Linked DNA regions of Homo sapiens. The protein of the gene in region 4 purifies or fractionates together with the protein of the main gene of each other region. This does not show direct contact. Each region holds a gene or a part of one and is shown on either strand. Other genes may lie near its edges.

The links.
Region 1: the proteins of GSK3B (region 4) and FRAT2 purify together in Homo sapiens (affinity purification with mass spectrometry; 2 studies listed by BioGRID and IntAct, with this or other methods). This does not show direct contact.
Region 2: the proteins of GSK3B (region 4) and PRUNE1 purify together in Homo sapiens (affinity purification with mass spectrometry; 5 studies listed by BioGRID and IntAct, with this or other methods). This does not show direct contact.
Region 3: the proteins of GSK3B (region 4) and GSKIP purify together in Homo sapiens (affinity purification with mass spectrometry; 10 studies listed by BioGRID and IntAct, with this or other methods). This does not show direct contact.
Region 5: the proteins of GSK3B (region 4) and USP48 purify together in Homo sapiens (affinity purification with western blotting; 2 studies listed by BioGRID, with this or other methods). This does not show direct contact.
Region 6: the proteins of GSK3B (region 4) and CTNND1 purify together in Homo sapiens (affinity purification with western blotting; 2 studies listed by BioGRID, with this or other methods). This does not show direct contact.
Region 7: the proteins of GSK3B (region 4) and GSN purify together in Homo sapiens (affinity purification with mass spectrometry; 2 studies listed by BioGRID and IntAct, with this or other methods). This does not show direct contact.

What each region holds. Positions count from the first base shown.
Region 1 is NC_000010.11:97,331,789-97,336,395, reverse strand, and holds FRAT2 (GSK-3-binding protein FRAT2), read left to right. Parts: upstream 1-1,666; 5' UTR 1,667-1,823; coding exon 1,824-2,525; 3' UTR 2,526-3,899; downstream 3,900-4,607. UniProt on the Homo sapiens protein: Positively regulates the Wnt signaling pathway by stabilizing beta-catenin through the association with GSK-3.
Region 2 is NC_000001.11:151,006,492-151,011,322, forward strand, and holds the start of PRUNE1 (exopolyphosphatase PRUNE1), read left to right. Parts: upstream 1-1,957; 5' UTR 1,958-2,141; coding exon 2,142-2,180; intron 2,181-4,831. UniProt on the Homo sapiens protein: Phosphodiesterase (PDE) that has higher activity toward cAMP than cGMP, as substrate. Plays a role in cell proliferation, migration and differentiation, and acts as a negative regulator of NME1. Plays a role in the regulation of neurogenesis.
Region 3 is NC_000014.9:96,380,200-96,384,255, forward strand, and holds part of GSKIP (GSK3B-interacting protein), read left to right. Parts: intron 1-2,047; 5' UTR 2,048-2,048; coding exon 2,049-2,306; intron 2,307-4,056. UniProt on the Homo sapiens protein: A-kinase anchoring protein for GSK3B and PKA that regulates or facilitates their kinase activity towards their targets.
Region 4 is NC_000003.12:120,000,098-120,004,153, forward strand, and holds part of GSK3B (glycogen synthase kinase-3 beta), read right to left. Parts: intron 2,143-4,056; coding exon 1,949-2,142; intron 1-1,948. UniProt on the Homo sapiens protein: Constitutively active protein kinase that acts as a negative regulator in the hormonal control of glucose homeostasis, Wnt signaling and regulation of transcription factors and microtubules, by phosphorylating and inactivating glycogen synthase (GYS1 or GYS2), EIF2B, CTNNB1/beta-catenin, APC, AXIN1, DPYSL2/CRMP2, JUN, NFATC1/NFATC, MAPT/TAU and MACF1.
Region 5 is NC_000001.11:21,776,094-21,780,149, reverse strand, and holds part of USP48 (ubiquitin carboxyl-terminal hydrolase 48), read left to right. Parts: intron 1-4,056.
Region 6 is NC_000011.10:57,768,169-57,772,224, forward strand, and holds part of CTNND1 (catenin delta-1), read left to right. Parts: intron 1-4,056. UniProt on the Homo sapiens protein: Key regulator of cell-cell adhesion that associates with and regulates the cell adhesion properties of both C-, E- and N-cadherins, being critical for their surface stability.
Region 7 is NC_000009.12:121,274,257-121,278,312, forward strand, and holds part of GSN (gelsolin), read left to right. Parts: intron 1-4,056. UniProt on the Homo sapiens protein: Calcium-regulated, actin-modulating protein that binds to the plus (or barbed) ends of actin monomers or filaments, preventing monomer exchange (end-blocking or capping).

The DNA.
Region 1 (4,607 bases), on a different chromosome or scaffold from region 4:
GTAGAGTACATTTACCTAACTCTTGGAAAGACACTTCCTGAACATTTATCAGTAAACCTTAAAATACCCAACTACTGTGACTTAAAATTCCACTCCTGGGAATATGCCCTAAGGAAAGAATCATCAATATCTTAAAGTGTCGCGCACAAAAATGTTAGTTACACACTTAACGATGGTGAAATTAGGCAAATGTTAAAAACATAGGCACTTGATGGAAACTTATGTAATCATTAAAATGTTTTCAAAGTGCATGCAATAACACGAAAAACGTTTATGATGTAAGGCAAAGTGGAAAAGTGTGTAACACTGTATGCATGTGTTTGTATACTACACTTTCATAGAACAAAGGCTAAAAAGGAAAAAAATTTAAATGTGAACCATGAGAGATTTTTTCCATCCCTTATATTTTTCTTTTTTTTTTTGAGACGGAGTCTCGCTTTGTTGCCCAGGCTGGAGTGCAGTGGCGTGATCTCGGCTCACTGCAACCTCCGCCTCCAGGGTTCAAACCATTCTCCTGCCTCAGTCTCCCGAGTAGCTGGGATTACAGGCGCCCGCCACCACGCCCGGCTAATTTTTGTATTTTTAGCAGAGATGGGGTTTCACCATGTTGGCCAGACTGGTCTGGAACTCCTGACCTCAGGTGATCCGCCCGCCTCGGCCTCCCAAAGTGTTGGGATCACAGGCATGAGCCACCCACCGCTCCTGGCCAATCCCCTATATTTCTATTTGAACCTTAAAAAAAAAAAAAGACCCTTCTTTAGCCGAGCGGCGGTGAGTCCTATTCTCATGATATGTCCGGGGGCTTGAAGACTGCGGGAGGGAAAGCCTCTGGGACCTCACCTCAGAGCGATTCTGCTCTGCTTCAAAGCGTCCCCTCTTAGGCCGGGCGCGGCGGCTGACGCCAGTAACCCCAACACTTTCGGAGGCCGAGGAGCGAGGACTCCTTGAGCCCAAGAGTTCGAGACCAGCCTGGGCAATATAGTGAGACCCCCCCCCCCCACCACCGTCTCTACAAAAAAAATTTTTTTAATTAGCCAGGCGTGGTGGCCGCGCCTGTGGTCCCAGCTGCTCCGGAGGCTTAAAGTGGGATGATTACTTAAGCCAGAGTTCGAGGCTGCAGTCAGCCGTGTTCGCGCCACTATACTTCAGCCTGGGCGACAGAGACCTTTTCTAAATAATAAATAAGTAAATAAGTAACGTGCCGCCTCTTCACTCCCAATTCCCTCCGCCTTTCCCCGCCCCGCCTCGTCGAAGCCGGACCCGCGGCGGCCCGCCCCTCCCCCACGACCAGGGCCGGGAACTGCGGGTGCGCGGGGCGGGAGTCGGGCGGGCTTAGGCGCGGCCGACACGTGGGGAGGGAGGCCGCGGCCCAGGAGGCGGGCCCGGAGTGGGTGTGGGTGTGTCCGTGCGTGGGAGAAACCAACCTCAGCCTCCTCCGAGGCGCCACGTTTCAGCACGGCTCGTTGGGCCCGGGAGGTCGGAAATCAGTCCCCACGCCCCGGACCCCCTCCTGGAGGGACAACGAACACAGGCGCGGGACGGCTTCGGTCACCGCCCGCGCCGCCCTTTGCCCCCGTGCCTGCTCGCGCGTCACCCCCGCCCCGGTGCGGTGGTAGGGCCCGGCGCGACGTCACCCATTGTTTACAAATCAACCCGAGCCGGCAGGATTCCGGCTCCAGCGGCTGCAGGCGCGTGGCTCGAGTGCCTGGCGGGCTCCGGCTTCCGCGTCCGCCCCTGCTCCGGCTTCGCCCGCAGCTCCGCGCCCGCGGGCAACCAAGCCCCCAGCGAAGCCCGCACAGCTCCGGGTGCCAGGACGGGGGGCCATGCCGTGCCGGAGGGAGGAGGAAGAGGAAGCCGGCGAGGAGGCGGAGGGGGAGGAAGAGGAGGACGACAGCTTCCTCCTGCTGCAGCAGTCGGTGACGCTGGGCAGCTCGGGCGAGGTGGACCGGCTGGTGGCCCAGATCGGCGAGACGCTGCAGCTGGACGCGGCGCAGGACAGCCCGGCCTCGCCGTGCGCGCCCCCGGGGGTGCCGCTGCGGGCCCCGGGGCCCCTGGCTGCGGCGGTGCCGGCGGACAAGGCCCGGCCCCCGGCGGTGCCGCTGCTGCTGCCGCCCGCTTCGGCTGAGACGGTGGGCCCGGCGCCCTCTGGGGCCCTGCGCTGCGCCCTAGGGGACCGCGGCCGCGTGCGCGGACGCGCTGCGCCCTACTGCGTGGCGGAGGTCGCCGCAGGCCCCAGCGCGCTGCCGGGGCCGTGCCGGCGAGGATGGCTCAGGGACGCGGTCACCTCCCGCCGCTTGCAGCAGCGCCGATGGACCCAAGCCGGGGCACGCGCCGGCGACGACGACCCGCATCGGCTCCTCCAGCAGCTCGTGCTCTCGGGAAACCTCATCAAGGAAGCCGTGCGGAGACTCCAACGAGCCGTCGCCGCGGTTGCAGCCACGGGCCCCGCAAGCGCCCCTGGGCCCGGGGGAGGCCGCAGCGGACCTGACCGCATTGCCCTGCAGCCCTCAGGCTCCTTGCTCTGACGCAGGCCTCCTGGAGGAGGAAGTGGAGGCCGCTGCGTAGACCCAACAGCGTCCAGTTCCTACTAACTCTGAGCTGAAGCCGACGTCGCCAGCCTGGGAGCGACCACTTTGGCTGCGGGGAGGCGCGTGGGGAGAGATCTCAACCAGAGAAGTTACCAGCCGCGGCGAGGCCGTCGGAGAAAACTTAAGCGTGGAGAAATGTATGCGCCAGGGTGCTTCCGTGGGGCATGAGAATTTCCCGGGCCATCCAAGCCCAAGGACCTGGGATAAACTGGGAGAACTATGGCAGCTACTTGCATCGACTTGTACCTCACTTAGCCCTTGGGGGCGTCGTGAGCTTGGATTGTTTAAGGAGGGCTCAGGGGTAGGAATCGCGATGGCTTTATAACAATACTTGAAAACTAACGACACGCATACATTTTCTTATTTTCTGGTGGAGGAGCTTAGTAAGTGGTGCTACAATTGCTGTGCAAAGAAATTCCAGAGGGGAGAAGAATGTAAAAGTTTGGTGGTGGGTGGCTTGGCATTGCCCCTTTTTCCCACCGATTCGGTGGCTGGTGAAGGTGGGAGATGTGAACTCCAATTAAGGGACTGGAGAGAGGTGAAGAATTTTGCAGGTGGGAGATTTGGATTTGAATGTGGACTTGTAAATGACTTGACCTTGCCATCTGTGTTCAAGGTCACGGTTTGCTGTGGGGTTCCTGGGAGAGCTTACTCACCCCGGAGTCTTTTCTTTCTCTTGCTCCAAGAAGAGCCCTGTTGGTGCTTTACCACCGCTTGGAGTCTCCCGAGGACACAAACAGGCAGAGAGGGACGTGTAGGGAGAGTTCTTTCCTGTTTTCTGTGCTTTCCTTTTTACAGGACTCCCGGAAGGCCACTCATGGCCATGCCAGGAGCTTTCTCAGAAACAGTCATAAACGATCTCTTGAGTCTCTTTCTTGTCCTCCCAGCTGAGCTTTCTTATTCCACCCTTTCTGGTGTCTATAGGAATGCATGAGAGACCCTGGACGTTTTTCTGCTCTCTTCTGGCCCTCCATGGAGTCATGGGCCTCGGCCTCGGCGGCTCCTCACCCTCACAATTTATTTCCTCCTCCCGTGCCAGCCCTTCTTTTGTGTCTGAAACCGGTTTTAAAATGTGACTCTCCCAGAGAAGAAGCCGCTGGCTGTATGAAACTTGACGGCGCTTTTGTAAGGTGCCACCCCCAAACTTTAAGGTAGCTAAACCAATTTTTAAAAGATTCAATGGCTTGTTCATCCTCCAGATGTAGCTATTGATGTACACTTCGCAACGGAGTGTCTGAAATTGTGGTGGTCCTGATTTATAGGATTTCATAATTAAAATGTCTGCTGAATAAATTTGGCTTTTGTTTTGGAGCACGGTTTGGCATTTTGGTGGAAGGTGGGAGAGGGGCAGAAAAGCATATGGGGATGTCCTTAATAAAGAGGGCACTTGGGCTAAACCGGGGGGGGGGGACCTGGACAAATGGTTTGGGCCAATGCTGATGGGCACAGAATCCTAGTAGAGCCACAGGACTTGAGTGCTTCTAAGTTTTTATTCCACAAGATCAGAAAATTGAGTCCAGGTTTTTAGAAGCTGCAAGATGGGCTTCCACTCCCTTTGTGGAAAGACAATGTATTCTAGAAATGCTTTCTGGGCTGGAGAGCAAAGAGGTGCTGTGGTGGAGGGAGGTGGGTTTTCATCTGGACGTTTTTGTGCAAAATGGGGAGGGCACAGGCGAAGCCAGCCTGCTTTCCCCTTTGAGACTGACCTAGTCTTGAGCTATGGCCTTGGGAGAGAAAAACAGGGTTTTACAGCAGTGTATTTGGTAGTTGTAAAATGGCTTGGTTTGAGCACTCAGGGGTTAGATTTGACCGAAGTAGCCCTCCTCCTCTCCTCATTCTCTCTCTGCCCTGTCTTCCCAGGCATAGAGCCCTTGCTGAATCCCTTCCTAGTTCCTGCCTTGCCCTTTTCTCTTTTTAATTTAATTTTATTATTTTGAGATGGTGTCTTACTCTGTAACCCAGGTTGGAGTGCAGTGGCACGATCTTGGCTCACTGCAGCCTCAACCTCCTGGGCTCAAA
Region 2 (4,831 bases), on a different chromosome or scaffold from region 4:
TTCCGGACTCACGCCCAGTACTGGGGGCACTGGAGGAGGGTGAAGGCAGGCAGGGACACAGCCAAGGTGCTCCAGGTCGCTCAGAGAGTCTTCAGGATTCCTGAGTCGCCGAGTCTATGGCATGCGCTCCGGGCCCTGACTACAAGCTGGTTTTCAAAGGAAGTTTGTGGTTTTTCTTTTCTTCTCTCTCTCTTTTTTGTTCTCATCAGGACGAAGAAAAATTAGGCAAGGACAAGCTCCCTGGAGGAGGAGGGGCCTGCCCAGCGCTGGTGGATTTCCATCAGGACTTTCTGACCCGGTCAGCAGCTTTGTGATCAGCAGAGAGGGAGCGAGAAACAGGAGAGAAAAACAACAGACCCTTTCTCTTCCCTCTGCCTGCCTCTAGAAGGGACGGAGCGCTTGTGCCTCTCTGGTGAGAATAGGGAAGAGCAAGTGCCCTTGCTAAGTAGGGAGGAGAAGGGCTGGACAGAAGCAGCTTGTTGGATCTGGGCTCTCTCTCTGGGTATGGCAGTCCTTTGCTCTGGATCCACAGAAGCAGGAGCAAAGAGCACGATATTTGCATGTATTACTCAATTAATGTTAAAAACAAACAAACAAACCCAGCTCTTTTCCCTCTGGAGCCCTCCAGAGAGCTCCTTTCCAAGTCCTTGCTGTATCATTTTTAAGTCTAGAAATGAAACTGGTTGGGTTGTGCACCTGGTAGAGTGCAGAGGGTGTGGTAGAAGCCCCAGGCTCTGGGCGCGATGGCTGACGCCTGTAATCCCAGCACTTTGGGAAGCCAAGGCGGGCGGATCACAAGGTCAAGAGATCAAGACCAACCTGGCCAACATAGTGAAACCCCATCTCTACTAAAAATACAAAAATTAGCAGGGCATGGTGGCACATGCCTGTAGTCCCAGCTACTCGGGAGGCTGAGGCAGGAGAATCGCTTGAACCCGGGAGGTGGAGGTTGCAGTGAGCCAAGATCCTGCCACTGCACTCCAGCCTGAAGACGGAGCAAGACTCCGTCTCAAAAAGAAGAAGAAGAAGAAAAGAACTGGCAGAGCAGGCAGGAGATCCAACACGCCTGTGCTCTGGATCTTGGTTCCACTGCAGGCCTCTCATCAGTCACCTCCTCTCGATTTACAGCTGGGGAAGCAGGAAAAGCTGGTGTGAGGCTGACGGTAGGAAATAAAGGGATAGATAAATAAATGAGGGAATTTTTGATGATGAGTGTCCATTTATTTGCAGTACCTGCACTACTCTGCGGCTGGAAAGTGGCAGTTAAGGGAGGTTGGAACCTAACTCCACATTCTGAAGGGTTCCCTAAACTCTATGTACAGGGCCGCCACAGGATGAAATTTCAAGCAACTCTAAAGGCTGAAAGAGCAATTGGAACAATTAGGGTGGCAGAGAGCAAAAAGCCAAGGTTACAACCGTCCAAGAAAGGAAGAAGATATTTGCCGAGGCTGTAGAAAAAAACAGGCTACAGAGTTGCAAAGGGAGAAGCAGCAGGAGTTGGCAGGAGACTGTAGGTGTTAACAAGAGGGGTCAAAGATTATTCTAATGTTCTCCTAACATGAACAACCACAAAATTGGTGGCGACTGAGTCAGTTTGGTAAAGGGCAGAATTTGTAGAAAGAAGATGATCTGTTTTGCCAAGTGTCATTTAAAATGTCACCAGATGCTCGGTGTGATATATGTAAAGATGTTATACTTGGCCTGATCTGAGAGGGAAAGTTCAGATGCCACAATAATGGGTTACTGTGACACATACACATTTGTTTACCGAACGACTGATCCCTCAGAAAACAATCCTTCCCTCGGTTGCTAGGGACATTGCGGAGTTGCGGGACTACGTTTCCCACGTCGCCCCACGCCACGCCCCCTTGGCCTCGCCGGAAAGACGTCCCAGGAGCCTCTGGGCGTAGAGCCCCGCCTCCGCCGCTGGGGGCGGGGCGACGCCGGACTCCGGAGCGCCCGCTTACGCAGTTCCTCCCGGGGTCGGAGGCCGATTCGCCGTGTGGCGGGTTCGAGTCCCGCCTCCTGACTCTGGCCTCTAGTCCCTGAGTCCCGGGCGGGCTGCATTCGTCGGGGAAACCTCTCCTCGACCAGGGGCACCTCTACTCGACCAGGGGCGACGGCGTACTTTGGGCTTCATCATGGAGGACTACCTGCAGGGTTGTCGAGCTGCTCTGCAGGTAACGAATCCCTGTCTGTGACTGTAAGGAATGGAGCACGGGGTCCAGGAAGGACGAAGACGTGGGATCTGGGGGAGCCTCGACGGTCCGTGTGGAGGGAACACTGAGTTGTGGGGAGGGGGGTTGGGGCCTGATCAGTTTTGGGGCATGAGGAGCGAGGAGCGAGAAGCCAGTTTAGGAGCGTGAGAATGCTGCTTGTTCAGTCTCCCGGTTTTTGGCTCCCCGCCTTTGGGGTCCGCCTGAGAGCGGGGAGAAGTCTTGGGTCTGAATCCTGCATTTGAGCCTCTGCTTGCTGTCATCTTGGTCAGTTCCATCAAAAAAACCAGGACTGTGCCGCCGCCAGCCTAGCCCCGCGAGGTGTGTTTATTCTTTTCTCCCCGCCCCTCTTTGAGTTCTCCGCTCCCAAGGCTTCGCTTGGCCCACTGGCCTCCAGGTGAACCTCGGGGGTGTGGAGGGAACCGGTGCTCACGGCCTTATTTCCTCCGAATGGCAGTTTCTGTCTGGCGGGCTGAACTCATTTCTAGGTTAGAAGTAGTCACAGTATTTTACTTTAAGTCAGTGTTTTTAAGCCAAACATACAAAATCCATCAGGCATATTTGTTGACCCACAACCAGCATTCCTTTGCCTCCAGGTTTCTCCTTTGGCCTTAACGCACACAAATGACATAAAAATTCTCCACTTGGAAGGGATAAGCACAAAGTGTGTTTGGAATCAAAACCATAAATATGACTACTCAATGCTTTGTGGCTTATTTTTGGTGCTCTCTGACTCAGTTGGACTCACCCAGCCATGCTGAGCCGTCATGAGGCATTAGGCTGTTATCCCCAGTTAGCAGCAAAAAGCTAACCAGAGACAGGCTCCAGGAGGTCACCCGGCCCCTCTACTTTGAGTTATACTGCCCTGAAGAAACCTAGATAGATGGCTTGCTGAGCTTTCCTTTTTAGATATCTTAAACTCTACAAATTCCCCTGAGGGACAGATTCTGGTCTTTAACAAATCCTGAAAGTCACTAATTCCTGCTGCAGACTCAGCTGCTGGAATAAATGAATTGTCTTCATATTGAATTGGGGAGAAGGTCCATTTTAACACCAATTACATAGACATTTTCCTTGTGAAAAACAAATTTGGGGAGTTATTTCAATGCATAAGGCCATTTGGAACCAATCCCTTTTTGTTACCTCTGAGTCCACCACAGGGCGCTTATTGGAGGACTAATGTAGAGTTTTTGGGGCACCGTTCTAAGTGCTAAACAGTTGGATTTTACCCCCCAGTAACCCAAATGACTGGTCTCTTCCACCATTTGGTAAAGTGCCCTTGGACCTGAAACCTCACCAAATAGTATTTCTTTGCATGCATCTACTCTCCAGCATATATCCTCCAGAGCCTCCCCCGACCCCCAGGTTAGTAGTATATTCTCTATTTTTATTTTGTATTTGTTTATTTATTTTCAGCCAGGGTCTCACTCTGTTGCCCTGGCTGGAGTGCAATGGTGTGATCACCTCCCCGGCTCAAGTGATCCTCCCACCTCAGCCTCCCGAAAAAGCTGCGACTATAGGCAGTGCCACCACGCAGGGCTAATTTTTTGTATTTTTATAGAGACAGGGTCTCGCCATGCTGCCCAATCTGGTTTCAAACTCCTGGACTCAAACAATCCCCCTGGCTTGGCTTCCCAAGGTGTTGGAATTACAGGTGTTAGCCACTGTACCCAGCCCGAATAGTATATTCTCTACAGCAATATGAAGCTGGAAAAATACTTGATTTTTCCAATACTGCTGGCATCTCGACCTTTCTCTCCCTGCATTCATCCCCCAAGGAGCAAGATCTAGATCTTCCTTTCAAACTTGTGAACTTGTGAAAGGTGAGATTGTGTCTTAGAGCTTGCATCATCACATAGCCTCTCCAGGGCCTGGAGAAATGAGAAAATTAGACTCTAGGAAGGTTAACAGGGGAACTGATGGCAAGACATACTGGTAGATGCCAACAATTTAAATTGCTTTAATTTTTTTTTTTTTTTTTTTGAGATAGACTCACTCTGTCGCCCAGGCTGGAGTAGGCTCACTGCAACCTCCACTTCCCGAATTCAAGCGATTCTTCTGCCTCAGCCTCCTGAGTAGCTGGGATTACAAGTGTGCGCCACTATGCCTGGCTAAGTTTTGTATTTTTAGTAGAGACAGGGTGTCACCATGTTGGACAGGCTGGTCTTGAACTCCTGACCTCAAGTGATATGCCTGCCTTGGTCTCCCAAAGTGCTGGGATTATAGGCATGAGCCACCACACCCAGCCTAGATTGCTTTAAATTATAGAAGTAGTAAATGTGTATTTCATGAACAAATTTAAATACCAAAGGGATATGAAATGAAAAAGATAAAGATCATTTTTCTTTTCTCCTCTCCATCCAGTTCTCCAGAGGACACCGTTAAGTTTCTTGTGTAAAGAGAGAGAGGTGATTTAGACAGATACACTCTTAAGTTTGAATGTTTCTGTTAAACTACAGTTTAATTATAACTTTCAGAAAATCATGAATGCTCCTCTTTGTGCAGGATAAAGACAGCTGGTAATCCAGCCAAGTCTCCCGTTGCTACCATATTTTTAGTATTTGATACCACAGAAATTTTCTATAGCCTCTGCCACAGAGACAATAGGATGTTCC
Region 3 (4,056 bases), on a different chromosome or scaffold from region 4:
AATTCTGTAAAGTGCTGTGAGAGACGAGATAAAGAGTCTTTAAAACATTATTAATTGAAATAGGATTGGAGGAATACATTATACATTTGCTATGTAAGTTTTTGAAATAGCTTTACATATGTTATTATAAATTGCATTCAGCAAGTAGTTCTGACTTTTGTAATGTGCAAATGACATTCAGCTGTAGGAACTCCAGCTTCTTAAGATTTTTGCTGATAATTTAGAGCAGTGGCTGCACAGCAAAATCACTCAGGAGCTCTGAAAAAAATAACTCGTCTTCCAGAGATTTTGATTTTGTTTTTCTGCAGTGAGGAAAATGTATCTGTAATTTTATAAGCTCTTACAGGTAATTCTAATGACTAGCTTAAAGGATTTTGAATGTCACTATCTTGAAGGATTTTGAATATTACACAAATAGGGCATAACTTGGAAATAGCAATGGACTGTGCAGTGTACCAGATCGGTGTCCATATTGTCAGAAAAAAATTGAGACTCCTTCTAAAAATGCATTTAAGAGCCAGGTGTGGTGGCTTGAGCCTGTAGTCTCAACTACTCAGGCGGCTGAGGTAGTAGGATGGCTTGAGCTCAGGAGTTCTAGGCTATAGTGCACAGTGATCACACCTGTGAATAACCACTGCACGCCAGCCTGGGCAACATGGTGAGACCTTGTCTCTTAAAATACAATGAGTTTCTTACCAGTCTAATCTAACTCCAGTGTGGTGAGGGGGTGGGACTAGACCTTGACCACAGTGCCCAAGTAGATAGGAAATGAATGTTGATTGAATATGTGAGTGAGTGAAGAGTTATGCTTCATTCACGACAGCAGATGCTTAATCCATATCAGAGAAGTGAAACTTTACTTTTAAAACCTGCCAAGCAAAAAGAAAGCACAATAGCTCACCATAACTTGTTCTGTAAAGCCTTTTGTACATTCCAAAGCACTTTCACATTAACTTTTCTCATTCATACATTTCAAATTTTAACAATACATATAGCCAGGAAGATCTTTTTTAACCCCAGTTACAGAAGAAAAGCTAAAACCACATAGCAGCCTGGCAGTAATATTTGATCAAGTTAGCGTGAGAAATTAGAAATAATATTTTTCAAAATATAACATTTGGGTCAGTTCAAATTAATGGTGAAAAGATGAGTTATTCAGTAAATGGTATTGGTACAGTTGGCTATCCATTTGGAAAATAAAGTTATGCAAAATAAATTCCAGATGGATGAGTTAAATTCAGATACAACGAGAATTTAGGGGATTTTTAAAATGTAATCATGGTATGGGGAAGGCCTAGAGCAGAACCCCAATCCAGAAGTCATAAAAGGAGCTACTGAGACTTACCTACTGTGGTAGGTAAAGACTTGCACTCTGATTTCATGCAATTTAGATTTATTTCCATTTCTGCTTATTGCAACTGTATGATCTTAGAACTAAAACTATCCTTTAAACATCCAAACAGATGTTTACTCAAGGAAATACATATTACAACAATGAGCTATCATTCTTTGCCTCTTAAATTGGCAAAAATTTAAAAGAATTGGAAAGAGGTGAAAAAGAGTACAGTCCCTCATATTCTATTGGTAAAGTATAAGTCATACTCTCTTTTTTTGTTTTTTTGAAGGGTAAATTGACAGTATCTATTAAAAGTTAAAATAAGTATGTCCTTTGACTCAGCAATTTCAGTCCTAAATATCTGTCCTAGAGAAATAATTATACATTTAAAAATATGTACTAGGATTGTTACTGAGGCATTATTCAAAATAGCTAAAAAACACAATATTCTAAATGCTTATCAATATGGAAATTGACCTGTTGGGGGTAAGTGGAGAAGGGAGATTCTTTTTTTTGAAGATCTATGGGTGTCGGTGATTTTGCTGTGAAAAACCACTAGAAATGTTTTTAGATAGTATTTTTCCTAACAATTGTTAGCTAGTGTTTTGTACTAAGGAGCAATTGTAAGGCATAGCTAATTTTAATCAAATGTAGTAGTTTGAATGTCTTTCTATAAACAAATTTTATAACTGCTTTTTTTTTTTTTTACAGAATGGAAACAGACTGTAATCCCATGGAGCTAAGCAGTATGTCAGGATTTGAAGAAGGTTCAGAGCTGAACGGTTTTGAAGGAACTGACATGAAAGACATGAGGCTCGAAGCTGAAGCAGTTGTAAATGATGTTCTCTTTGCTGTTAACAACATGTTTGTCTCGAAAAGCCTGCGGTGTGCGGATGATGTGGCCTATATCAATGTGGAAACAAAGGAAAGAAACAGATATTGCCTAGAACTCACTGAAGCAGGGCTCAAGGTAACTCACTTTTCCTTTTAGAAAAAAAAATTATTTATGTCTTTACCACTTTATCAAAAAGAGGGGTAGTGGGGAGGGGAAGAGTGTTAAAAGAGAACTGGATATTCAGTAGCTTCCAAATTTTTTTAAGAAAAACTTTTAACCTAGAAATTTTTATTAATTTTAAAGGCTTTTGATCGATATGGGGAAACAGAATTTTTTTGAAAAACATTTGATTTGCAGGGCGTGACTTTGTTTTAATCATGACCCCCAAAACTAATTTATTTCTCATCTATAGCTAAATGTGTTCACCAGAATTATACATACATTCTTTGCATTGAATGGGTTTTGCAGTCACTGTGTTGAAAAGATTTTCAACACCTCTTGAAAATGTCGCTTCTGTTAAAATAACATACTTGACAACACTGTTTTCCAACTCTGAGATCAGAAATAAATCAGAGCAGAACATTCCACCCCCAGATTTCCAAGAGTGTCCCATTAACCCTTTATTATGAGTATCTCTTTATTATGAGAGCTTTTCTAGGCGGATTAACCTTTCCATTCTTTAAACCAAAATCATGAGTTTAGAATAGTAGAAAACATCACCTGAGAGCAACTTTTAATTAAAAAAGAAAAAACTATAGGCCAGACCTGCGGGCTCTTACCTGTAATCCCAGCACTTAGGGAGGCCAAGCTGGTAGGATCATTTTAGAGCAGAAGTTCAAGACCAGCCTGGGCAGCATAGCAAGACCGTGTTTCTACAATATATTTTTTGTTAATTAACCCAACATGGCAGCACTTGCCTGTAATCCAGCTACCTGGGAGGCTTAGGAGGGGGCCTATGAGTTCGAGGTTGCAGTGAGCTAGGATTGGGCCACTATACTCCAGCCTGGGTACACAGACCCTGTTTAAAAAAAAAAAAAAACTATTATAAAATCTTTGACCTACTGAACAAAGGGATAGACATTAGAAAATCTAAAATCTAGTTTTAACCTTACTAATCAGTGAATCTTCAGTCTTAGAAAATGTCATACATTTCTGTGTTTCTATATTTATTCAAAGTAATTGTACATTATCATAAGGTGGTGAGCAAGGCCTGCCTAAGCAAGTAAGAATGTCACATGATATCAAGTACATAAACATCTCTTTAATTCGCTGGATTCACTTTGCTGAAGATGAGTCGTGTATACTGTATATTCCTTGATGGAGCAAATTGCAAGGCCAGCATCTGTACTACCCTCAGTTCCCTCACAGCTGCTGCAAAGATAGCTGCTTAGCTTTAAGCATAGTACCTGAATTAACTAATTTTTGTGCACTTCTTTTCACATCCTTAAATTTGTACTAAAAGCTCAGAGTATTTAGAGGTGAATCTTAAATCAGAAGTAGAGATAAATGACAGAATTAGTAAGATAATTCTGTCTTGTGTTGGTTAATTCTAAGTTGACTGTGGAGAGGTAGAAGGAGTTCTGATCAGAGAGTCAGCAGTCTTAAATGTGAATTTAAGTGATCTTGAGTGAGTCCGTCTACCCCTGAGAGAGTTTCTGCTTCTTAATCTATAACTTGGAGATTTAAAAAAAACTTAAAACGATTTGGGGAATGATTATATGACTGTATGATACAGAAAGATCTGAACCATATGTAAAACCTGACATGTAGTAGGTGCTCAAATATTTGTTTGTTTTTCAGTCTGATTCAGTTAACATTTATTGAGCAACTATCCTGTGTCAGCAATTGAAAATCAAACCATGCATAAGACATGATCCCTGTCCAC
Region 4 (4,056 bases):
GAAGAGAAAGAAAAAGAAGAGACACAGCCACAAGGCAGTATGAGGAAAAAAGAAAATCAAGTTAAACAATGACTGGATATTAGGGATGAGCAAATGGAACAGTCTGAATAACAGTGAATTATAAAACCATTAAAAAGAAAAGGCAAATCCAAAGTTCTGGGAACTAGCAGGAGAGATTTCCATTGAGTCTTAAAAGTTAAGTCATAGTTAGATAAGATGGCTTGACAATTTGAGATAACAGTACAATATTCAGATATCAAGATCCAGTGGGCATTTGACAACATGAGACTAGTACTTGGGGGAGAGGTGAGAACTGAAAACAAAAACAACTGAATTTTTAAAAATTCTTTAGAATGTTCCAGATATTTACAGCAGATGGACACTAGAATGTGGTATAACTAGTGTTATACCAGAACAGTGATCACTTCTTCTTGTTATATCCCTTCATGTTTACCATAGATCTTGGTACATTGGAGGCTCCCACTAAAATGTTGCAGAGGTTGGAAGAGTAGTAAAGGGAGCAACGCTGCATAGTGACAGAGGCTTAATTACACCCGGTGTCTTCTGACTCTCTCTGCTATACCACAACATAGAGATGACATCTGAGCTTCCATGCATAGGCTCCCCTAATGAGGTACAGAAAATGAAAATACATGACGAGAACTGAATTTTGGGATTGCTAGTGTCTAAAGGCAGAAGGACAAGAAAAAAAAGGGAAGATAGCAAAAAAAAAAAAAAAAAGTTACGAGAAAAATGGATAGTGTTGTAATATGGTTTGGATGTTTATCCCTTTCCAAACCTCATGTTGAAATGTAATCTCCTTTTTTTTTTTTTTTTTTTTTTTTGAGACAGAGTCTCACTCTGTCCCCCAAGCTGGAGTGCAGTGGCGCGATCTCGGCTCACTACAAGCTCTGCCTCCCGGGTTCACGCCATTCTCCTACTTCAGCCTCCCAAGTAGCTGGGACTACAAGCGCCCGCCACCATACCCGGCTAATTTTTTGTATTTTTAGTAGAGACGGGGTAGAGCCTGGTGGGAGGTATTGGATCAAGGGGGTCAACCACTCATGAATGGGGTTAGCACCATCCCCTTGTTGATGAGTGAGTTCCCACTCAGTTAGTTCACAGGAGATCTGGTTATTTAAGAGAGTCTGGGGACGGGCATGGTGGCTCACGCCTGTAATCCCAGCACTTTGGGAGGCTGAGACAGGCGACTTGCCTGAGCTCAGGAGATTGAGACTAGCTTGGACAACATGGCAAAACCCCGTTTCTACAAAATAGTAATAACAATAATAATAATAATAAAGTCTGGATCTCCCCCTTCATGCTCTCGCTCAGCTCTTGCCATGTGATGCACCTACTCGCCCTTCACCTTCTGCCCATGATTAGAAGTTTCCTGAGACAATTACTAGAAGCAGATGTCTGCACCACACTTCCTGTACAGTTTGCAGAATTGTGAGCCAATTAAACCTCTTTTCTTTATAAATTACTCAATATCAGGTATTCCTTTATAGAGATGCAAAAACAGACTAACACAAGTTGCAACATGGATTAAAAAAATTTTTTGAAAAAAGGAAGCATAGTCAAATACATAAAATGCTTATATGCTACAGGCAGTGTTCCTCTGGTCTACATCAACACAGTACAACGGTGAGGACAGGTCACTTTTTATAGTATAAATTAAGAAATTTTAACTTACCTTTCACAGGATTAAAAAATACATATATTACATATGTCATTTGTAATGACTACAAAAGTAATACTGCAATCTTCAGTGAATGTTATCTCTACAAAATACATGACTAGAAATAAAATCACTACAATGGTTGAGCTGAACAAAAATGCGCACAATAGAAGAAATTTGAAGCAAAAAGAAGCAACTAAAAAAATAATCATTTATGGTATATGTATTACGACAGCAACAAAATATATGAAATACTGGACATTTTACCTTAAATCTCTTGTCCTGCAATACTTTCTTGATGGCGACCAGTTCTCCTGAATCACAAAGTTTGGCTTGATATACCACACCAAATGATCCATTTCCAATCACTTTAGTGTCTGTATAGCTGACTTCTTGTGGCCTGTCTGGACCCTGCCCAGGAGTTGCCACCACTGTTGTCACCTTGCTGCCGTCCTTGTCTCCTAAAGGAAGAAAGGAAATTTTTTTTTCACGAGAACTGTAAGGAATTAAATAGAGAAAACTGCCAAAATATACAAGGTAAACTATATTCTTTATTTTTTATTTTATTTTTTTTTTTGAGATGGAGTCTCACTCTTGTCACCCAGGCTGTTGTGCAGTCACACAATCTCGGCTCACTGCAACCTCCGTCTGCCGGGTTCAATCAATTCTCCTGCCTCAGCCTCCCGAGTAGCTAGGATTACAGGCACCTGCCACCACGTCTGGCTAATTTTTGTATTTCTAGCAGAGACGCGGTTTCACCATGTTGGCCAGGCTGGTCTTGAACTCCTGACCTCAGGTGATCCGCCCTCCTTGGCCTCCAAAGTGCTGGGATTACAGGCATCAGCCACCACGCCTGGTCAAAGTAAACTATATTCTTTACTACAAATTATTTTTAGTTTATTACATGTAATTACTTCAATTACTTGTTTCAATTATAAGTCATTTTTTAAACTCCCATGTATTCAGTCATTCTATAGACCAGACACAATGCTTAGTTTCAACCCCATGAGGTAGACAGTACTGTTCCCATATTATAGGTAATAGGAAGAATGTTAAATTTGCCCATGGTCAAATAGCAAAAGGTGAACCCATAAGAGTCTGACCTTATCCATCCAATTCTAAAAGGCCTTAGGGCTTTCTTCAAGACCTTATTTTACTTGAAAATAAAATATGTGCAAATAAAAATGTTTAAAACTTCTCTCTTCAGATCCTTCTGCATTTAGGAAAGTAAGGCTTTGAGTGTTTGCTTCCCTGAATCTTCTTTTTAGCAAAGTAGAAGACCTCTCAGAGAAAGCTCAGGTGGAGAAAAGAATGTTAATTTGGGGTTAACAGATATAAAAATTTAAATAATCCAACCCATTCTGAACTGAGGCCCAATTATATAAGCATATCACTGGCTCCAGGGTCTCTATTCACTCACAGACCTCTTCTTTCCTTTTTTGCCTTCTCTCACCCCAGTAGCAATCCAACGGCTCTCTTCAATTCAGGCACAAGAGCCACCTCCTACTTCACTAGGGATAGTCCACAGTCACCATCTTGTTTTCTGAATTCTTAATCGATTCTGTGTATTATGCTACCTAGTATCTGATCTAAAAGAGCTTTACATTGTTCTTTTAGTGACTTCAACGTACACAAAAATGTCTACTGTTTCTTCTCTCTTCCCTGACAAATCTAAAACCAATTCTCAGTACAATATAAGTCCTTAGGCTCACTTATTGGACTTTTATTTTTTCCTGTTATTCTTCCATTACAATTTCCTTTCTAAAATACTAACTGAATTCCAATTAACCTAATAAAAGAAAAGTAATATAATATTTATGAGTATTTTTCTCTGTGAAATATAAATTGCTAGATAAATGAATATCCAAATGCACTAGTGGAATATTATAACCAATATTTATATCCATTTAAATTCACAGAAGTATTAATATACACAAAAGCCAGTGAATGTCTGTGACCAATTAACACTTTCATTTGTAAGATGGCATTCATGGTCGCTTCCAAGATGGCTGAATAGGAACAGTTCTGGTCTACAACTCCCAGGAAGATCTTTGCAGAACACAGGTGATTTCTGCATTTCCAACTTAGGTACCTGGTTCATCTCACTGGGACTGGTTGGACAGCAGGTGCAGCCCATGGAGGGCGAGCCGAAGCAGGGTGGGGCATTGCCTCACCTGGGAAGTGCAAAGGGTTGGGGGATTTCCCTTTCCTACCCAAGGGAAGGCATGAGTGGCTGTACCTGGAGGAGCGATACACTCCTGCCCAAATACTGCACTTTCCCAATGCTCTTCGCAACAGGCAGACCAGAAGATCCCCTCCCATGCCTGACTCGGCGGGTCCCACGCCCACACAGCCTTGTTCGCTGCCAGCACAGC
Region 5 (4,056 bases), on a different chromosome or scaffold from region 4:
TTTCCACCTTTTGCTTATTTTGAGTAGTACTTCTCTGAACATTTGCATACAAGTTTTGGTCTGAACATCTGATTTCAGTTCTTTACCTGGGAGTGGAATTACTGGGTCATACACAGTCAATTCTGTGTTTAACTTAACCGAACCGCGAAACTTCCACAGTGGTTGTACCGATTTACATTCCCACCAGTGATGTATGAGGGTTCAAATGCTTCATCATCCTCATAAACAGGTACTATTTTCTGTTTTTCTGGTTAGGCCCTCCTACTTGGGTGTGAAGTGATGCATCTTTGTAGTTTTGATTTGCATTTTCCTAGTGACTAATGAGTTCAGCGTCTTTTCATGTGCTCGTTGCCTCTTTTCCTTTTATTGATCAATAATATGCCATCATATCTCTGTATCTACCACATTTTTAATTTGCATTCATCTGCTGATAGACATTTGGGTCATTTCTACTTTTTGGCTATTATAATGTTGCTATGAACATTAGTGTAGTAGTTTTTGTGTGGGCATTTATTTTTATTTCTCTTGGTTATAGAGCAAGAAGTGGGATTGTTGGGTTGTGTGGTAACTTTTAACTTTTTATTATTATTATTATTTTTTTTTTGAGACGGAGTCTCTCTGTGTTGCCCAGGCTGGAGTGCAGTGGCGCCATCTCGGCTCACTGCAACCTCTGCCTCCTAGGTTCAAGCGATTCTTGTGCCTCAGCCTCTGAGTCACTGGGATTACAGACGCCCACCACCACACCCGGCTAATTTTTTGTATTTTTTAGTAGAGACTGGGTTTCGCCAAGTTGGCCAGGCTGGTCTTGAACTCCTGACCTCAGGTGATCCACCTACCTCGGCCTCCCAAAGTGCTGGGATTACAGGCTTGAGCCACCGCACCCAGCTCTTTTAACTTTTATTTATTTATTTATTTTTAATGAGGTCTCACTCTGTAACACAGACTGTATTGCAGTGCAATCATGGCTCACTGCAGCCTTGAACTCCTGGGCTCAAGCAATCCTCCCGCCTCAGCCTCCTGCCACTACAGGCACATGCCACAACACGAGGCTAATTAAACAAAATTTTTTTGCTGGGCGTGGTGGCTCACGCCTGTAACCTCAGCACTGTGGGAGGCCAAGGCTGGCGGATCACGAGGTCAGGAGATCGAGACCATCCTGGCTAACGTGGTGAAACTCCGTCTCTACTAAAAATACAAAAAATTAGCCGGGCATGGTGGCGGATGCCTGTAGTCCCAGCTACTCGGGAGGCTGGGGCAGGAGAATGGCATAAACCCGGGAGGCAAAGGCAGGAGAATGGCACGAACCCGGGAGGCAGAGCTTGCAGTGAGCTGAGATACGCCACTGCACTCCAGCCTGGGTGACAGAACGAGACTCCGTCTCCAAAAAAAAAAAAAAATTTGTGGAAATGGAGTCCCACTTTGGTGCCCAAGCTGGTCTTGAACTCCTTGCTTCAAGTGATCCTCCTGCCTTGGCCCCCTGAAATGCTTGGATTGCATGAATGAAACTGTTCATGGCCTTTTTTTGGCTTTTTTTTTTTTTTTTTTTTTAAGATGAGGGTCTTGCTATGTTGTGTAGGCTGTCCTTGAACTCCTGGGCTCAATCAATACTCCTGCCCCAGCTTCCCTGGTAGCTGGGACTGTAGGCACGAACCACCATGTCTGTGTTTAATATTTTGAGGAATTGTCAGGTTACTTTCCAGAGTGGCTGCGCTATTTTACATATTCACAAGCAGTATATGAGGATTCCAATTGCTCTATGTCCCTATACTTGTTACTGCCTTTTTTCTTTTAGCCATCCTAGTGGGTGCGAAGTGGTGTCTTATGTTTTGATTTGTGTTTCATTGATGACTAATCACGTTAAACATCTTTTTGTGTACTTATTGGCCATTCATATATCTTTTTTGAGAAATGTCTGTTTAAATCCTTTGCGTGCTTTTAAATTGAGTTGCCTTTTGTTATTGAGTTGTGATCTTTTTTTGGTCTTGTTTTTGTTTTGTTTTTTTTTTTCAGACGGAGTCTCACTCTGTCACCCAGGCTGGAGTGCAGTGATGCCATCTCGGCTCACTGTAACCTCCGCCTCCCAGGTTCAAGCGATTCTCCTGCCTCAGCCTCCCGAGTAGCTGGGACTACAGGCGCACACCGCCACGCCTAGCTAATTTTTTTTTTTTTTTTTTTTTGGTATATTTAGTAGAGACGGGGTTTCACTATGCTGGCCAGGCTGGTCTCAAACTCCTGACCTTGTGATACGCCCACCTCAGCCTCCCAAAGTGCTAGGATTACAGGCGTGAGCCACTGCATCCAGCCAAGTTGTGTTCTTTATATATACTGCATATAAGTCCCTTATTAAATATATGATTTGCAAATATTTTTTCTAATTTCTATGGCTTTTAATTTTATTGGTGGTATCATTTTCAGTACAAAAGCTTTTCATGTTGATGTAGTCCAATTTCTTCTTCTTCTCCGCCTTCTTATTCTTATCAGTGAAGCAGGGTTCTTGCTTTGTTGCCCAACCTGGAGTGCAGTGGTGTGATTGTAGCTCACTGTAGCCTTAAACTCCTGGTCTCAAGTGATCTTTTTGCCTCAACATCCCCAGTAGGTACAACTGCAAGTTGTACCACCACACCCAGCTAATTTTTTTGGTATTTTTTGTAGAGTTGGGGTCTTACTATGTTACCCAGGCTGACCTTGAACCTTTAGCCTCAAGCAGTCCTGCTTCAGCTTCCCAGAGTACTGGGATTACAGGTGTGAACCACCTGGCCCCAACATTGTACTATTTTTTTTTTGACGCTTTTGGTCTTGTAAGAAGCCACACCTCACCCAAGGTTTGAGCAGTTTTAATTAATGAATTAGTTAATTTTATGAGACAAGGTCTGGCTCTGTTGCCCAGGCTGGAGTACAGTGGTGCAATCTTGGCTCAATGCAACCTCTGCCTCCCAGGGGCTCAAGCCATCCTCCTACTTCAGCATCCCGAGTAGCTGTGACTACAAGCATGCTCCACCACACTCGGCTAATTTTTGGTGTTTTGTTTTTTTTTTTCAGATGGAGTCTGGCTCTGTTGTCCAGGCTGAGTGTAGTGGCGCAATCTTGGCTCACTGCAACCTCCGCCTCCCATGTTCAAGCGATTCTCCTGCCTCAGCCTCCTGAGTAGCTGGGATTACAGGCATGCACCACCACACCTGGCTAATTTTTTTTTTTTTTCTTTGAGACAGAGTTTCACTCTTGTTGCCCAGGCTGGAGTGCAGCGGCACAAACTCGGCTCACTGCAGCCTCCGCCTCCCAGGTTCAAGCAGTTCTCCTACCTCAGCCTCCCGAGTAGCTGGCATTGCAGGCACCACGCCCGGCTAATTTTTGTATTTTTAGTAGAGATGGGGTTTTGCCATATTGGCCAGGCTGGTCTCGAACTCCTGACCTCAAGTGATCCCCCCGCCTTGGCCTCCCAAAGTGCTGGGATTACAGGCGTGAGCCACTGTGCCTGGCCCTGTCAGCTTTTATTTAGATATCCAAAAAGCTCTCTTTCTACTCACTTTCTTCTTTTTTTTTTTTTTTTTTTTTTTTTTGAGACAAGACACTATTCACTTTCTCCTTTTTTATAGAGACAGAGTCTTGTCACATTGCCCAGGCTGGTCTCAAACTCCTGGGCTCTAGCAGTCCTCCCTCCTCAGCCTCCTAAATTGCTGGGATTCCAGACATGAGCCTTTCTCCTTTTGTTTATTTCTTCTCTTTGCAAGAAGAGACTAAATAAATAAATAGTATCACCAATATGTATTTTTCATACTTTATGCAACAATTTGTTATGAGATACCAAAGCTGAAGAATGAGGTGTTTGACCATATTCAAAGACCACATGTGTCAGGACTGTTTACATTTCTGAAAGTACTTAGGGCAATCACAGGATGAAAGCAGTGTGTACTAAATCCTCTGTCCACAGAATTCTGCAAATATTATGTGTCTTGAGGGCAGACTTGTTTGTTAACAGTGAGGTTGGTGGTCAAGTAAGTTCCTGGAAGTAAAATTGTTGGGTAAGGGATGTGTGTTTTTCATATTGATCCATGTTGC
Region 6 (4,056 bases), on a different chromosome or scaffold from region 4:
TGTAGGTGCTTGCATTACAGAATATATGGGCTTCCTGAGTGGGTAAAGCTAACTTTTAAATTTTTTTAATGGGAAAAAATTAGTAATAGGTAATATTGGAGAGTTGTGTGGGTGAGGTTCAAAACAACGGTAGTATGAGAATGGATAACTTTAGTAAAGTGAAGTGTCAGTGGGAGGAAGATAAACAGAATGATTTGTATGATTTGTGGACATCATCCTTTTTTTTTTTTTTTTTTTTTTTTTTAGACAGAGTCTTGCTCTGTCGCCCAGGCTGGAGTGCAGTGGCGCGATCTCGGCTCACTGCAAGCTCTGCCTCCCGGGTTCACGCCATTCTCCTGCCTCAGCCTCCCGAGTAGCTGGGACTACAGGCGCCCGCCACCACGCCTGGCTAATTTTTTGTATTTTTAGTAGAGACGGGGTTTCACTGTGTTAGCCAGGATGATCTTGATCTCCTGACCTCGTGATCCGCCCACCTCGACCTCCCAAAGTGCTGGGATTACAGGCGTGAGCCACCAAGCCCAGCCAGACATCATTCTGTATTTGCAACCCTTATTTGTGGACATTTATAAAACTGACATGAGTTCATGAATGCTTCCTGTGAGAAGTGTGCTTCTAAGAAAGGAGTCAGCTTTTATATGTGGAAAAGCCAAGCTGTGGTCTGTGGGAAATACATATGTGTTAGATACAACCTTGCCTAGAAACTTGCGGGTTTATTCCAGCCTAGGAATTTTCCTTCTCTTTTCCTCCCTTTTCTTCATACTTAAGAACCCATGAAACTAGTGTTCTAAATAGTACTTAAGCCAATTTCTTTGAATAATTTTTTTTTTTTACATTTTTATTTTAAAAATGAGACAGAGGCTGGGCGCGGTGGCTCACACCTGTAATCCCAGCACTTTGGGAGGCTGAGGCAGGCGCATCACTTGAGGTCAGGAGTTTGAGACCAGCCTGGCCAACATGGTGAAAACCTGTCTCTACTAAAGATACAAAAAAAAAAAAATTAGCTGGGCATGGTGGTGCATGCCTGTAATCTGAGCTACTCGGGAGGCTGAGGCAGGAGAATCGCTTGAACCCGGGACCCGGGAGGTGGAGGTTGCAGTGAGCCGATATCATGTCATTGCACCCCAGCCTGGGCGACAGGGCGAGACTCCGTCTCAAAAAAAAAAAAACAGAGAGACAGAGTCTTGGTATGTTGCCCTGTCTCCAACTCCTGGGCTCAAGTGATTCTCCTACTTCAGCCCCTGGAGTAGCTGGGACTACAGGCACACACCACCTTGCCTGGCTATTTAAGCTAATTTCTTTTGGCACTCTGTAGCCTCCCACATTCAGTTCCTCACATTTATTTTACCTATAATTTCTTCTACCAATTCTCCTGTATTTTCTCCTTTTCTTTTGCTTTCCTGTTCTCTGTGGTGTCTTCCTTTGTCTCTCTTTGCCTCCTCTTGCCTCCCCTATCTTTTTTTTCTTTTAGGTTGGGTTTCCTTTTTTTCCCTTTAGGTTTTCCCTTAGGTCTTCATGGGCGTTGCTTTGCCTCACTAACAGTTAACATAAAGACGTATTTCTGTTTCTTGTACCCATGTGCTAAAGGTACAACTGTTAGGATACCACTTCATTTCAGTTAGATCTAGTTTAGGCATACAATTGTAATCCAAGAAGACTGATCTCTTCTAGTGATTCAGATTGGTTTTATCTTTGATTTTTAGATTTCATCTGCATTTCTTGATTAATTACTCATTTTGGTTTAGTTGACAGTTGAGCAAAAAAAAAATTACTTTCTCCGGAGTAAATCATCTGTTTTATTTATGCTTTCTATGTTGTTCTATGTTGTAGTGCAGTAGCACATTAGGAGGTATCTTTGTGGAGTGAAAAGATTTTTGTGGCTGGGCGCGGTGGTGGTTCATGCCTGTAATCCCAGCACTTTGGGAGGCCGAAGGCAGGTGGTTCACCTGAGGTCAGGAGTTTGAGACCAGCCTGGCCAAAATGGTGAAACCCTGTCTCTACTAAAAATACAAAAATTAGCCGGGCGTGGTGGCGGGCGCCTGTAATCCCAGCTACTCGGGAAGCTGAGGCAGGAGAATTGCTTGAATCTGTGAGGTGGAGGTTGCGGCGAGTGGAGATCGCACCACTGCACTCCAGCCTGGGCAACAGAGTGAGACTCCGTCTCAAAAATAAAAAATAAAAAAAAAAAAGAAAGATTTTTGTTACACGGTTGGGCTCGGTGGCTCACACCTGTAATCCTAGCACTTTGGGAGGCCGAGGCAGGCGGATCACGAGGTCAAGAGATTGAGACCATCCTGGCCAACGTGGTGAAACCCTGTGTCTACTAAAATTTCAAAAATTAGCTGGGCGTGGTGGCACATGCCTGTAGTCCCAGCTCCTCAGGAGGCTGAGGCAGAAGAATCCCTTGAACCCAGGAGGCAGAGGTTGCAATGAGCCGAAATCGCGCCACTGCACTCTAGCCTGGCGAGAGAGTGAGACTCCATCTCAAAAAAAATAAAAAAATAAAAAAAAAGAAAAGAAAAGATTTTTGTTTTAGGAAGCTCATATTTTAAGAAACTAAAATATATTCTCATGGTTGAGGACATAAGACATTGTTATAGAAACTAGGTCAACTTCTCAATACCTTTATCAAAGCACCTGCAGTTCCCATTTCATTGCAAGTGAAGTAAATCTCATTGAAATAAAGTAGCTGGTGTATATTCAGTACACTTTTAAAATAGCCTATTTTAAAAGAGAAATTGGTGCCAATCTGATTTATTTCCTGCTTTGTTGGAATGGGGGAAGTTCTGTAACCTCATTGCTGTTCTGCTCTCTATTGACTACTTTGTTAACTGGGGCACAGTTGGCCTCTTGGATGTCTACCGTGCTGAAGGTCAGCCAAATAGGCAGGTAAGACTACCTAGGCCTCTTCATAGGCCTAACTAAGATCACAGTTGGAAAAAAAAAAGTATAGAAAAAGAAAAGAAAGTTGTTTTTTTTTTCTAAAATTTAACTTTTTGTATTCATTGAAGAAGGAAGTAAAACATCTCCATTCAAAAGAAATTTGAGAGTCTGTTTATGCCATACACTGAAGTACAACAATAAACAAAATAGACCTACTGTTTGTTCTCAAAGAGCTTACATTCTAGTTGTGAGAGACAAATAATAAGCGAGTAAATATGTAGTATGTCAGAGTGTGGTAATATTATTGAGAAAAAAGTAAAGTAGAATGAGTAGTATGGAGGAAAGAACGTCTCAGGGTGGGGGTGAGGTTATTTTATATAGAGTGGTCAGGGAGGGTCTCATGTGTAAGGTATGTTTGAGAGAGACCAAGAGAAATGGAGGATGGAGTCATGTAGATATGAGGAGTAGGAAGTGCAAAGGCCCTGAGGCTGGTTATTGCCAATGAACAAAAGAGATTGAGGGGAGGGAAGGAGAAGTAAGAGACCTGTCCAGAGAGGACCAATGGGAATGTATTTTGGGGGAAGGGGAATAATGTAGGGTCTTGTTGTATACTATATTGTACAAAGAAAAATTATCTCCACTTCAAACCCCAGAGACAACGGCTGTTACCGAATTTTTGTGTCTTTCTTGTAACTTGAGGTAGCACCTGACCCAACCTCCATATTTCTCCCATTGTGGAATCTCCATGAAAGTATAGTTAGCAGATAATTTGCATAGTAGCAGATTTTGCATAGGTTGATTACCTTTGTCTTAGAGAATGATAATAAGGCAGCTACTTAGAATAAGCTGATATGTTTTTGGGAAGTGGGATCAAAATTTTTCTTTTTCTTTTTTTTTTTTCTTTTTTGATACAAGGTCTGTCTCGGCAGTGTTAACAATCTCAGCTCAGTGCAGCCTCCGCCTCCCACGCTCAAGCCATCCTCCCACCTCAGCCTCCTGAGTAGCTGGGACTATAGGCATGCACTACTACACCCAGCTAATTTTTGTATTTTTTTTTTTTTTTTGTAGAGACAGGGTTTTTCCCTGTTGCCCAGGCTGGTCTCAAACTTCTGAGCTCAAGTGATCTGCCTGCCTCGCCCTCCCAAAGTGCTGGGATTACAGGTGTGAGCTACTGTG
Region 7 (4,056 bases), on a different chromosome or scaffold from region 4:
TTTTTTGTTATGGTAGAAATAAATGCCCACCCGAGTTTTCATCACTCACTATTATTCTATCTTTGGTGTGCCTGTACCATGTTCCCTTAACAATCCTCAATTATGAAACATTTAGGCAGTTTATAAACAATACTGCAATGAACAACCTAGTGCATACTTTTTTTGTGTGTTCTTCTTTTATTATTTCCTAGAAGTGAGCCCTAGAAATGGAGTTCCTGAGTCAAAATGACACATTTTATAGCTTTTTCTTGTTAAAAAAAAAATTCAGTGACACTTGTGAAAACACGGTAAGGAAGTCTTTATTCAGGAACATTGCCTTGGGCATAGGGACCACTGCAACAGGGTCCTACAGTGAGGGAGAGAGTTTGGGCTCAACTCCTAATACAGCATGGGCGAGTGGGAATTGATAGCTGCAGAGCAGGGTAGGGGTCAGCGGATGGAAAATTACTAAGAGGAAGCTCAGGAATAAGGGATATTCTTGCTAAACCGACCTAACAAAATTATTGATGAAGACAAACCAGGGTGATTCAAACATCAGTGGGGGCATGGTGGAGGATGAGGAGCCTGATCAGATATCAAGGATGAGGGGTTCTGGCTAAACAGACTTAGCAGGATTCTTTTGCTAAAACTGGATTTTACAAGGAAGTGCACAGGTAGGCCTAGGAGAAGGTTCAGAAGCCTGGCTAAAGTTTGGCCAAGCAAATAATCTGTGTCATGCTAAATTTTGCCAAATTTCTGCTCATAAAGGTTACAGTAGTCCTTATTCCTACCAGCCATCCGTGAGAATGGCAGCATTCTTCAGGAGCATCTGAAGCTGGTTATAAAAAGCTCAGCTGTCCTTTTATAGAATAGAGTACAGCGACCATTTTCCTGAAACGTTACATTTCATTCATTCATTTGGCAAATACACTTGCACAATTCAGCAGCAATAAAGCATAACAAGTTAAGATCCCAGGCCGAAGAAGTGGAGAGAACTTGGTTCTCCTTCTGGTTTATGTTTTGCACTTGCCCTAAGACCTTGAGGACATCACCTCACTGAGTTTCATTTTTCTCAGCTATACAGTTAGGGCTTCAATACCCACTTCACAGAATTCTACAAAGTACCTAACACAATGCTTGGCCAGTGCAATCATGTGGATGCTGGGAATTTGTATTATCTCATCTGACTCCAAAGAGCCCTGGAAAGGAAGCAGGTAGGGACAGATCCTTCCCATTTCATGGACTCAGAGAAGAAACGGCCATGTTTCTTGGTGTCCTGAGCTTCACTTCAGGAACTGGTAGTCCAAAGGAACTGTATCGTTCAGAACGGAGGTAAAACAGGCTTTTGTGGGCTAGCCTGTATCCATCCCCCTCCCACCTCCCCTCCCACCACAGTACCTGTTTCTCTTGGAAGGCAAGTTCCCAGTTCCAGTGGCAGCCAGAATTCTTTCTATGCTCTTTTAGAAGGTGGGAGATGCCTGCCTAGACTGTTCAGTGGTCTTAAAAAAGAGACCATAAAATTCATGGTTGCATAAAATATAGTTTTCATAGATTTAAATTGCATTTTAAATGCACTAAGGCTTCATCTTTGAGCTTTTCAGAAATGTGGGATTTCAGACTCCATCTTTAGGGTTGCCTTATTTAGCAAATAAAAAACAGTGTGCCAGTTAAGCATGAGTATGGCCCTTGGAATGTTTGGGGCATAATTATACCAAGACATCTTATTGTCTTTCTGACATTTAGATTTAACTGGGCATCTCATGTTTTATCTGGCAACCCTACCCACCTTGGGTCTACTGAATCCAAATCTGGATTTTCACAAGATCCCCATGGAATTCGTGTGCGAATTCAAGTGTGAGAAGCATTGCATTGGGAGCCTTGCCATCAAAGCCCTGAATGAATCCTTTTTGTAACAAATCTGTTGGTAAAATATAATGCACTATTTATAAAGAGCCTGATTATTCCCAAATCAACCATTTGCACACATCTGTGTGTTCATGTGTTAGGTTTTCTTAATACAGGCTACCCTTGCACTGTTGTCAGTTGAAGGGAAGAATTCCTTGCTTTGGTAAGAAGCCCTAGCCCCTCTCAAGGACCTATTTTCCTCATCTGTAAAATGGGCTACATCCTTAGCATCCGTGCCAGCCTGTGGTGACCAGCTGAGGTGGCCCCAAGGGGATGCATGGCTAGAGCCCACGCCAGGTCCCTCCTCAGCCTCCTCACAAAGGACCGAATGACTTGGCTCTGTGATCCCATCCCCCAGAGACTTTGGTGTGACTGTGGTGACCCTTGGCATAGCGCACCCCCCCGACTGCCTCCTCATCTCAAAACTTTCCAAACCATGACTTTTATAGCAGGGCTTTAGGAATCGCCTGGCTCTACCCTCTCACTTCATGGCTACAGATACTTGTGCCCTGAGAGAGCAAGTGAATTTCCCAAAGCCAACAGCAAGCCCTCTGATTGCTGCTCTACCAAACCAAAATGATTTCAGTTCTCATGAAACCTAAGGCCTGACTAAGGAAGATTAAGAAACCTGGTGGTGGTCGGGTCCTGTAGTGGGGTGGGAGGAGGGGGGAGGGATAGTATTAGGAGATATACCTAATGTAAATGACGAGTTAATGAGTGCAGCACACCAACATGGCACATGTATACATATGTAACAAACCTGCAGGTTGTGCACATGTACCCTAGAACTTAAAGTATAATAAAAAAAAAAGAAAGAAAGAAACCTGGTGGTGGTCATACGCCTAGTTTGTCTTGGTTGTGTGGTCTTGGGTAAGTCATTTCTCTCTCTAACCTATTCCCTGCCCCCACCCCTCCATAATATGGGGAATACACATTTTCCTGTTCCCCTAGGTCTCCTTTCTACCTGGTTAAGGTTTTATTTTAAGATCCAGTGGTAGATCTTGGTCTGTCAATTGGTCCTAGAGTGGAATGCTTTATGAAATCACTGGTACATGTGTTAGGTCAGAGACTTAATACCATGACATCATGAAAGATGTCTTTAGACCCTTTCTCTCCTCATTGCTAACAAAGATTTTATGAACTGTGTTTCAGCTGGACAAAAAAGATGTTCTAGAGCATTCTAAGATCGCCTGGGGCTTTTGTTAAAATGCAGATTCTGGTTCCACAAGTCTGGGGTGGGGCCTGAGGCTCTGCATTTCTAGTGATGCTGATGTAGCTGGTCCAGGGATCACACTTTCAGTTGCAAGATTTGAAAACAATCTGTTATTAGTGTAGAATCAATACTTATGAGATAAGGGACTTAAGAGGCAAGTCCCTTGTTCAGGGCTAAAGACCCAGTGACAGTAATAGGGTCTAGCCTGGAGCCCAGATCTTTTAATGTCTTGTCTTTGACATCTGACTTATCTGTCTATTTTATCTGCAGCTATGAGTTTCTAGAATCTGAACAGCCCTTAAAATACTTTGCTGCTTAATTATGTAGCAAAGTAGGTTCTTCTTTAGGAAAGAGAGTGACTCAGTAGAAAGCCATTGGAAGGGGGAGAAATACAGCTAGCATTTGATCAACCCTTTCACCAGAAGTTTTTATACTTGAGATTATAAACATTCTTTCTGTATTTATGGATGCAAACTACAGTCCTGGGGAGGCCCCAGTCTGTTTTTGTATGCCTCTGAGCTAAGAATGGTTTTATAGTTTTAAAGTGTTGTTAAAAAACAACAATAACAAACAAACAAGGAAGAATATGCAACAGAGAGGGTGTGTAGCCTATGGAGCCTAAAATATTTACGGTCTGGCCCTTTTACAGAAAAAGTTTGCTGACCCATGATCTAGAGTACCCAAAGATTTGCATGTTCTTTTTTTTTTTTTTCTAGTCAGCAAGAGGCCCAGCCTTATAGCTTTGAAATATAGTGAGGTCAAGACGTAGGGGAGGCAGCCTGCGTTGGTGGGAACTGCCCAGACATCTTAGCTGTGTGACCCTGAGCACATTACTTCACCTCTCTGAGCTTGTGTCCTAGCTTCACAAAATGAGGACAAAGATTGCTGCCTGGTAGAGTTATTGCAATGATGAGACATGCCTGTAGAGTTTAACGCTTGGAAGGTGCACAGAAAATGAT